Linked DNA regions of Homo sapiens. The protein of the gene in region 3 purifies or fractionates together with the protein of the main gene of each other region. This does not show direct contact. Each region holds a gene or a part of one and is shown on either strand. Other genes may lie near its edges.

Evidence for each region.
Region 1: the proteins of PPM1L (region 3) and TTC27 purify together in Homo sapiens (co-immunoprecipitation; one large-scale study listed by IntAct). This does not show direct contact.
Region 2: the proteins of PPM1L (region 3) and TDRD10 purify together in Homo sapiens (affinity purification with mass spectrometry; one large-scale study listed by BioGRID and IntAct). This does not show direct contact.

The regions. Positions count from the first base shown.
Region 1 is NC_000002.12:32,634,500-32,638,230, forward strand, and holds part of TTC27 (tetratricopeptide repeat protein 27), read left to right. Parts: intron 1-755; exon of another isoform or gene 756-832; intron 833-3,731.
Region 2 is NC_000001.11:154,522,530-154,526,260, reverse strand, and holds part of TDRD10 (tudor domain-containing protein 10), read right to left. Parts: intron 1-3,731.
Region 3 is NC_000003.12:160,759,231-160,762,730, forward strand, and holds part of PPM1L (protein phosphatase 1L), read left to right. Parts: intron 1-3,500. UniProt on the Homo sapiens protein: Acts as a suppressor of the SAPK signaling pathways by associating with and dephosphorylating MAP3K7/TAK1 and MAP3K5, and by attenuating the association between MAP3K7/TAK1 and MAP2K4 or MAP2K6.

The DNA.
Region 1 (3,731 bases), on a different chromosome or scaffold from region 3:
GCTGGTCTGAAACTCCTGGGCTCAAGTGGTCTGCCTGCCTCAGCCTCCCAAAGTGCTAGGATTATAGGTGTGAGCGCTGTACATAAAGATCTTTAATGGCAAAGCAGCAAATCTGGAAATCTGTTTAATTTTATTTCAGGTAAGTTTTTAACTAATTAATTAATTAATTTTTTTTGAGACAGAGTCTTGCTCTGTCACCCAGGCTGGAGTACAATGGCGCGATCTCAGCTCACTGCAACCTCTGCCCCATGGGTTCAAGCAATTCTTCTGCTTCAGCCTCCCTAGTAGCTGGGATTACAGGCGTGTGCTACCACACTTGGCTAATTTTTGTATTTTTACTAGATGTGGGGTTTCTCCATGTTGGCCAGGCTGGTCCCAAACTCCTGACCTTAAGTGATCCTCCCACCTCAGCCTCCCAAAGTGCTGGGTTTACAGGCGTGAGCCACCATTCCCGGCTTGCAGGTAAGTTTTGATACTGTACTTAAGAATGGCTCCCAGGAGTGGTTTGCTCCCAGGGGTGGCTTTAAATTACAAATACTTTATTAAAGTTTCTGGCACAGCATTGCTTCATGGTGATTATTATCCATTGTGAAGATAATATTATCGATCTGTGCCAGTGTGTCGCCAATAGAGCTTGCAGTTTGAGTTCCTCAGGAATCTTGAGCTCCTATATAGAGGGTCTGGCTAGTATGAGATGATCTACAAAAGAAGTATGGTTTAAATCAAAGTAAGAACTTTGATTTATCCAGCCACTTTGGTGATTTTGAACGTAGCTATCCACCACTCAGCCTGGAAAAAGCTGAGTGATTGATAGCTATGTTCAAAATCACCAAATTGTATCCAGAACTCGTGCAGCAAAACAGACCTAGTGTTACCTGGTTTCTCAGAATTAGGTGTAGCAAGTAGGCCGGGCACAGTGGCTCATGCCTGTAATCCCAGCACTTTGGAAGGCCAAGGCGGGCGGTTCACGAGGTCAGGAGTTCAAGACCAGCCTGATCAACATGGTGAAACTCCGTCTTACTAAAAATACAAAAATTAGCCGGGTGTGGTGGTGCACGCTTGTAATCCCAGCTACTCAGGAGGCTGAGGCAGGACAATTGCTTGAACCCGGGAGGCGGAGGTTGCAGTGAGCCAAGATCACGCCACTGCACTCCAGCCTGGGTGACAGAGTGAGACTCCATTTCAAAAAAAGAAAAAAGAAAAAGAATTGGGTGTAGCAAGTAAATGTGGAATAGAGTTATTAGAGATATGTGTTAATAATTTGATGGGGGGGTAGAAAGAGAAGAAGTGCAAAAACAAGCATAAAGTGAAAACCACAATAATTAACTCTTTGCATATCAGCTTAGTGAGTCACTATATATACTTCATTAGAGTAATTTTAATCCATAATGCTGATCCTAATTATAACTGAAAGGTTAAAAGATGTTTTGTGTCTTATGTCTATGAAGGGAATTTATAATTTATATTCTACAGAGGTTTTCATCCAAAATGGGAGTAAAAAAACCCCAAACCCTAAATGATTGTAGCAGTTAAAGAGATAAGCTTCAGTTATCTAGAAATGTACTTAGGAAACATCTCATTCCCTCTCTTATTATGTATGAATCAGTTTCTGGCTTCTATGGCCCTATAGTATAGATTAGAAATCCACCAAACAGCCAAAGCCATAAATATCTCCTGAACACTGATGTGTGGTTTGAATGGTACTTAATTCGCATTTCTTTTTTTTTGTTTTGAGACGGAGTCTCACTCTGTCGCCCAGGCTGGAGTGCAGTGGTGCGATCTCGGCTCACTGCAGTCTCTGCCTCCCGGGTTCAAATGATTCTCCCACCTCAGCCTCCCAAGCAGCTGGGACTACAGGTGCTCACCACCACGCCCGGCTAATTTTTGTATTTTTAGTAGAGACGGGGTTTCACCATGTTGGCCAGGGTGGTCTCAAACTCCTGACCTCAGGTGATCCACCCGCCTCGGCCTCCCAAAGTGTTAGGATTATGGTGTGAGCCACTGCGCCTGGCCTTAATTCACATTTCTTGTGCCAATTTGGTCCTTACAGATTTGAGGTAATCTATAGGTGAAAAGACTGAAGCTCAGAGTGGTAAAAGAATCTTGTCAGAGATCTGTAGCTGGGGCATTGGAATCCACATTTTCTGGTTCCAAATCCAGTACTCTTCTATACTAGTGTAGAAGCACCTGTAAATTCAGGTAGCAAATCAAAACAATATGGAAATGAGTTTCATGAGAAGTTCAGACCATAAGAAATATTGCCATTAACAAAGAGATTTGTGGAAGCTGGATTTTGTCAAAGAAGACCTTTTAGTTGGAAGTGGACCTTGAGCTAGAACCTGAAGGATGGTTAGAAAATGGATAGAGAAGAGGAAAATATCCATTCTAGGTGCAGTCATATGAGCAGGAATTTAGAGGAGAGGACAGCATAGTGTTTGTGGGAAAAGGATGCTTTGAACTTGCCTCTTTTAGCAGTGAAAAATCACTTGATGGAGGTCATTTGGAGTTGTAGGAAACTTTGACTAAGTCTTTGATTTTAACTTTTTTATTGGAACTACTGCCAACACTTAAAAGAGCATATGAAATGTATACAATTTAAATAATAAATCTCCTTTGTACTCACAACCTAGCTTGAGTGTCACAGGTAATGCTCTCCAGATAGTATACCATGTGCTGTCTCCCTGTATAATTTTTATTTGTTGCTATGTTAAATTACTTGTTTGTTCTTTATATTTAGGGATTCATGTAGAAGATAATGACCTGAAATTTGTGGTAGAACAGGCAGACATATTTCTTGTCTCAGAGTGATTAGGAGAAGGATTCTTTTTCTTTTTCTTTCTTTTTTTTTTTCAGACGGAGTCTCACTGTGTTGCCCAGGCTGGAGTGCAGTGGCGCAATCTCAGCTCACTGCAACCTCCGCCTCCCGGGTTCAAGTGATTCTCCTGCCTCAGCCTCCTGAGTAGCTGGGACTACAGGCGCCCGCCACCGTGCCTGGCTAATTTTTGTATTTTTTAATAGAGACGGGGTTTCACCTTATTGGCCAGGCTGCTCTCAAGCTCTTGACCTTATGATCTGCCTGCCTCAGCCTCCCAAAGTGCTGAGATTCCAGGTGTGAGCCACCGGGCCTGGCCAGGATTCTCTTTCTTAAAGACATTCCTTATTATCTTCTTGTGCTTTACCAGTTTGGCTTGGGCTTTAGGAAATCAGCTTGTTATATCTACTTGAATTTACAACATGATCCGATGAGGCTGCAGGTCTAGTTTGGGCACTTTAGGCAGGTTCTTCTGAGTTCTCAAGTCAGTATATTCACTGTACATTCAGTACCTCCAGTTGGGGTTCTCACAGAATACCTCATTTCCTCATCATGTCCAAGACTGAACTCATGATGAAGGTCTTCTCTTTTTGTGTCTGTATTTCAGTTACACACGCCACCATGGTGTAGTGCCAGTCAGAAGGCTAAAAGTCATCCTGGCCATGTCCTTGAGGCTCTCCAAATGCTTAGCATAGCCCTAGCCCTTCCTGAGGGGCAGGAAGAGGTAGAGAGATCTGTTTCCAGTTCCCAAACCAATGTTCTTTCTACCAGCGTGGGCTGGTTTGGGAATTGATTTGGGAATTGGAAACATGGGCTTCACTTAATTTTTATGGATCTGTTTCCTCACCTCTAAAATTGAGGCAGTTGTAAAAACTTGATAATATTTCATTAATTATTGAAGTTTTTTTTTTAAATAATT
Region 2 (3,731 bases), on a different chromosome or scaffold from region 3:
CCTGGCTAGATTTTTTTTTTATTTCAATAATGTCAAGTTTCTTTTTTTTTTTTTTTTGAGATGAAGTCTCACTCTGTCACCAGGCCAGAGTGCAGTGGCACAATCTTGGCTCACTGCAACCTCCACCTCCCAGGTTCAAGCAATTTTCCTGCCTCAGCCTCCCGAGTAGCTGGGACTACAGGTGCACGCCACCACGCCTGGCTAATTTTTGTATTTTTTTTATTAGAGATGGGGTTTCACCATATTGGCCAGGGTGGTCTCAAACTCCTGACCTTGTGATCCACCTGCCTCAGCCTCCCAAAGTGCTAGGATTACCGGCGTGAGCCACCACGCCCAGCCTCTTTTTTTTTTTTTTTTTTTTTTTTGAGACGGAATCTTGCTCTGTTGCCCAGGCTGGAGTGCAGTGGCACAATCTCAGCTCACTGTAACCTCCGCCTCCGGGGTTCAAGCAATTCTCCCTGCCTCAGCCTCCCAAGTAGCTGGGATTACAGGCACCCACCACCATGCCCAGCTAATTTTTGTATTTTTTAGTAGAGATGGGGTTTCGCCATGTTGGCTAGGCTGGTCTTGAACTCCTGACCTCAGATTATCTGCCCACCTTGGCCTTCTAAAGAGCTGGGATTACAGGTGTTAGCCACCGTGCCTGGCCATTAATGTCTACTTCCTATTTGGATTTTAAAATGTTGTTACCTACTTCTTCAATCAACTCTTAGCTCATTAATATTCAACCTTTCTTCTTTGCTCATCTAAGATTGGATGAACCTCTAAATATTGCCTTCACTATATCCCAAAACTTTTCAGGGGTAGTATTTTCCTCATTATTCAGTTCTAAGTGTTTTTAAGTTTCTTTATAAATTCTTCTTTGACCCATGTGTTGTTTACATAGGAATGCTTTTAAATGTCCACATTTATGGGGATTTTATGTTCAGCTTTTGTGTACTTATTTCTAATTTAAAAGCAGTGGGAATACTGGGAAATCATCTTTATCCCAAGAGAAAAAAAGGTGAGAGCCATGATTCTCTTTCCCAGTATCTGGTTCTGGCATGACACAACTTAACTCTCACCCCAAACAACTCTAAAACTAGACAAAATACAGGAACTCACCATTTCCAGCACAGGACTAATGAGAGTGAATGGCAGAGGGCTGTTTCCTGAGCAAAGGAAAGCATGTGAGCACCACATTCACCCTGACCTTCTGCCTGGGGGCATTTTCCCAAACCACAGCAAAGGGAAACAGAGCCCAAGCAGAAAGTGGCAGTCTCATTGGGCAGCAACAGAGTTTAGGTGACAGGAATTTGGGGACAGAGGACCAGAGAGGAAGGAGCCACACAGAAGTCCAAGGAATCTAGGTGTCTGCCTCAGGTCCTTGGTTGAGGCCTAAGCTGTCCGTGGTGTGGGACAAGTACCGGGAGGCCTTAAAGAGAACAGTCGCTGTGAAGGTGGGGGAGAGGGCTCTGAGAGAGACACAGATGCCAGAGGTCTCACAGTGCTGGAGACAATGGAGTTCCAACCCAGCAAGGGGGACAGACCTTGGCAAGCACCCGGAGCACTCACCTGAGACCCTACAAAAGCCAAGTCTTAGGAAAAATGGTGTTACCCAAGAAAAAGACTCACAATGGAACATTCCAATCCTAACTATGACACACACACAAAAACCCTTAATAGGATAAAAGATCTGCTAGTAATTTAATCTTTGCTAGAAAAATTTCAACACCATTTAGAGGACAGTAATAGAAGTCTCCATGATATAGCATCCATAATATCCAACATACAATAAAAAATTACTATAGGCTGGGTGCAGTGGCTCAGCTCATGGCTATAATCCCAGCACTTTGAGAGGCCAAGGTGGGCAGATCACTTAAGCCCAGGAGTTCGAGACCAGCCTGGGCAACATGGCGAAACCCCATTTCTACAAAAAATACAAAAATTAGTCAGGCATAGTGGTGCATGCCTGTAGTCCCAGCTACTAGGGAGGCTAAGGTGGGAGGATGGCTTGAGCCCAAGAGGTGGAGGTTGCAGTGAGCTATGACTGAGCCACTGCACTCCAGCCTGGGTAACAAAGCAACACCCTGTCTCAGGAAAAAACAGAAAACTATTTGTAAAGGGGCCTGAAAATTTTACCCATAATCAAGGGATAAATGTCAACAGAAGCAGATCCACAAATGACTCAAATGTTGGAATTAGCAGAAAATGATTTTATAATAACTATTATAAAAATGTTAATCTTAAAAAAGAGACAAAATAGGTGAAAAGATGAAAAAGTCCAGCAGAGAAATGGGAAAAAAGAATAAAATGGAAGTTGAAAAATATCTAAAATAGAACATTCATTAGATGGGCTTAAGAGCAGATTGGACATAGGAGGAGAAAAGATCAGAGAATTCCAAAACAGGTCAGTTTGGAAGAGTGGGAAAGCCTGTGACCATGCACATATACTGAGACCAGTTAGCAAGGTTGTGTGAATGTCTTCAGGGGCTCAGAGGGTGAGTTCAGAACAGGCAGAGGGCTGGGTCCAACTAGGATTAGTGTTCTGCAAGCTATAACCTAGTGAGAAAAGGGCAATGGAGTTAAAGATGTTTGAACTAAGGTAGTTATTGACTATAGAATCTAGGCTAAGAGGGAAATGAGAGAACAAAGAGAATATTGAATAATGAAGAAATGGTGGGGTCAGCAGACTTTGTGTGCCTACGTGAGCCAATGCATCAACTGTTGGACTGAGGCTGTAGAGCCTTGCTACTAAAATGTGGTCCCAGGGCCAGGAGCATCAGCACCACCTGAAGCTTGTGCTAATTCCCAGGCCCTACCCTACATGTACTGAGTCAGAATCGCTGGGGCTAGGGCTCAGAAAACTGTGTTCACAAACCCTTTTGTTGATTCTGATGCTTGTTAAAGCTTGAGAACCATTCTTCCAGAGTAAGAGAGCTGCAAAGACTGGGGGACAGCGCAGAGTGGGATGCTTGAAATGGTTACAGCAATCACAAGGTCTGAAATACAGCTAGGGGGATGAGAAACTGTGACCAAGTGGAAGAAAAAATCATTAGGAAGACACAACAATCCAGGTGGGGTGCAGTGGCTCATGCCTGTAATCCCAGCACTTTGGGAGGCTGAGGTGGACGGATCATTTGAGGTCAGGAGTTCGAGATCAGCCTGGTCAACGTGGTGAAACCCTGTCTCTATCGAAAAAATATAAAAATTAGCCAGGCATGGTGGTTCACACCTGTAGTCCCAGCTGAGGTGGGAGAATCCCTTGAACCCAGGAGGCAGAGGTTGCAGTGAGCTGAGATAACTCCACTGCACTCCAGCCTGGGCAACAGAATGAGACCCTGTCTCAAAAAAAAAAGATACAATGGTCCAGGAAGTAAGTGACTGGACTCTTAGTCGAATCATCCACATGGATGCTAAATTTGCATGATAATAAGACAGAAAGATAATGAGCCAGAAGCTGAAGTTTTCAGTGAAGGGCATAACACAGAGAAGAGCAGACAACTGCTGCCAGGAAGGTTCCTAAGCAGTATAGTCTGACAGTCTGCCCTTTCAAAGAGGGCTTAAGAGAGAAAGGAAGAGAAAGAGTTTGAAATTAGCAAAGGGAGTCACCTCTGACAATCTTTTTTTTTCCTGTTTATAGAGATGGGGTCTTGCTATGTTGGCTAGGTTGGTCTCAAAGTCCTAGCTTTAAGCCATCCTCCTGCCTCGGTCTCCCAAAGCATTGGGATTACAGGTGTGAGCCAGTGCGC
Region 3 (3,500 bases):
TAGCTCTAGAATGGTGCAGACGATAAATGAGGAGTTTAATTTTATTTCTAATAACTCACACTAGTAAGATAGACCATCAAAAACTAGGGCCCGTCTGTAATTGTAGTACTCTTTAGATGCAGAGGAGACATTACCTTGTATATCCTTGTACATCCATTTCATCTGTGTATATCAATTTCATCCCTCACCCTTTTTTTTTCTTTTAAGCTGAGATGCTGATAGCTGGAGAAGTTGTGACCTTCCTAAGGCTATGTGGCTAGTTCAAGGCCTTCAGTTTGTTGATCTCTATATGAAACCACTGGACAAATTGGCTTGAATATTTACCTAGATAGATGGTGCCCTGGGGATACAAGGGTGAATGAAATATAACCCCTATCCTCAAAAAGTTTCAGTCTAGTGAGAGAGATAGACCTCTACACCAAAAATTATAGTCATGGTGCGCTTAGAGTGTTACGGTGACACAGAGGAGGGACATTTAAATCAGACTGGTAGGTAGGAAGGCCCAGGAAAAAACGCCTTGAAGGTATTGTTTACTTCAAGATTAGCAGCATAGGTTTTGACTTGAGATCTGGCTTTGAATCTGTGCTCTGCTTTATTCTAGCTGCGACATTGGACAAGTTGCTGAAACAGCTTTATCTGGGAGTTTATTATCTAAAAAATAGGGATAATAATGCCTGTAAGGTGCACCTTCATCAGTTGTATTATACCCTGTCTAGAGAAGTACCTAAAGGAGAGAAGGATATGGAAGAGGAAAGGCCAAGAAGACCAAGAAGTCTGCAGTGCTGGGGCAGCACTATTCAAGGGAGAGAGACTCTTCCTGTGTGAGCCACAACTTTTATCTCTATGAAGATGTATGTAGTGCAGGGATAATTTATTAGCTATCCCCCAAACTCTCTATATCTCAAGGTTCTAACTTTCAGTGGACTCCTGATTACTAATTCAGGATTTCAGTTATCCAGATATTTGAGAAAAGTGTGTCATGGCTTTAGGTGTAAATTTTCTTACTAGTCAAAAGGAATATTCTCTATGATTAATTAAGAAATTGGTATTCTGATTTGTACTTCAGCCTCTTATGATTTGGGTTACCATGAGTTAGTTCTCTTGAGCATATTTAACTGTGAATTCTTCGGCAAAGATATGTCTCTGGACTTTTTATGCTGAGGACCAGACTCTCTAGGGCTGTGGCTTCTTCTAGATGGATGAGATTTTAAAGAGCCTTATCTCAGTGGTCCTACAGGCCAGCTTCCTCCCTTGATTCTAACCATGATACTGTGTGTGGATGGTTCACAGTGTGTGTATGTGTCTAAAGGTATGGCAGTGATTGTCTTCTTATATAACAAGATTAAAACAACAAAAAGGTAAAAAGGAGCTCGTTATATAAATTGATGTAGAAAGATTATTTTAAGATAAAAATGATTTTTGTCTAGGAAAATCATTGTTTTTGTGCTTACTTGTAATTTTTATCTACAGGCAAAAGGTGGTTTTTTTTTTGTTTTTTTTTTTTAATACCATCTAGAAGAAATATCACCAAATCCTTTGGCACCTCTATCAATGTTCATGGCTGAAGCCTAGCTAGAAGAATAGATTGTTATGTGCTCCATATGTTCATGAGCACTACTCTATTAAAGGTCTTATGTATCTTGATAATTGACACACAGCTTGGCCAGTGGTTAAAGCCCAGAGTTCCACATTTTGCATGAGGGAGAAGCCATACTTCAAGCGCTTGCCAGGGACTGCAGTCTTGAGGCTCAGCACTTCTCAGAAGCTCAGAAAATAAACTCCTTATGGAGGGTTGCCTGAAGAATATATATATAGTCTTATTCTTTAGATCAGTGGTTCTTAACTTTTCTTGAGTCATGCTGCTCTTTGAGAATGTTATGAAACTACAGACATATTCCCCAGAAAAAAGGACATGCATATCAAATTTTCTTTGTAGTTTCAGAGACAAGTGGATGCATGAAGCCTCTGAATTTCAGATTAGTCTAGATAGAATAAAATCTGTTTTTGATGCATCTAGCTCTGCAAGGAACTGTGTATCTGAACCCCTTGCTTGGCCCTCCTGCTTTCCTCTCCATCATTTGCTTTTATTGAATTGTTTGCTGTCATTTGCCTGTGAGGGTTGTTTGGAGGAATAGTCTCCTTAGCTCTGAGAAATAACTGCAAGAATGTTGTTGAGGAAATCATTTATTATATTATATAGTGTCATTTTAATGAGGACCAAGGGAGAAATAGTACTCTATTACCTATTTATCTTAAGGATGCTGAATTATGTAACTGATTGGGCCATCCTGGGTTTGTTGGCTGCTACAAGTATTAAGAGCCAAACGCCTGACCTACCTCTAGCAAATGTGCAGACTTTTATGGAATACATTCATCTGGTACATGAACCTCACTCCTAGGACAGTTTATCTTTCCTACACTCAATTTTCCTTTATCCCATTTGTATTAGCCCGTTTTCATGCTGCTGATAAAGACATACCCAAGGCTGGGAAATTTACAAAAGAAAGAGGTTTAATGGACTTATAGTTCCACGTGGCTGGGGAAGCCTCACAGTCATGGCTGAAGGTGAAAGGTGCATCTCACATGGTGGCAGACCGGAGAAGAAGAGAGCTTGTGGAGGGAAACTTCCCCTTATATAATTATCAGATCTTGTGAGACTTATTCACTATCATGAGAACAGTATGAGAATGACCTGCCCCAATGTTTCAAATTACCTCTCACTGGGTCCCTCCCACAATATTTGTGAATTCAAGATGAGATTTGGGTGGGGACACAGCCAAACCATATCACCATTTTTCTCTTCTCTTAGATATGTCATTTTAGCTTGTATTATATGTATTTATGTAAGTTTCATTGACTCCTTCTGAAATAAGATACACTTCTGAATAAATAAATTATGACTGGCACAGTGAATGATCTGCTTTTCAGACATTATAGCTACTGTTAGTAAATGTTCGGCTTTCACATTATGATGTATAAGAGGCCTAGGGATTTAGTATGGACAAATGCCTTATGGTTTAAGAGAAGATTCTGATTATTTTGGTTTAAAATGGCACATTAAAGTTTCTGCAAAAAATTTTTTTTTCAATGAAACCCTCCTTCCTATGCCTGTGCTTAAAGACCTTTTTGTATGGGAATGTAGGAACCTGACTGCTGACCTTGCTGCGTCTTCTGAACAGGTTGTTAAGAAATTCAGTTCAATTAAGCCAACATTTTCTGTATAGTTTGGCACCTGTGAAAAGCAGTGTTATGTTCTATGTGATGTCTAAAGATGATTTGGTGCATTCTGTGTCCTCAGGGAGCATTCTGTCTACTTGGAGAGATGAGCTTTTTTTAAAAAAAATAGCAGAGTTACAAGATGCCTGCCACCTACAAGTGTGTGATGGCTTGACTGAAGGAGCTTGGGAAATTTTGGATAATTTTGAAGAGGAACTGACATTTAATTGTATCCTAGCATTTCTGTAGACAGCGATTGGGTGGAGAAAGGAGGGGAAGATGAT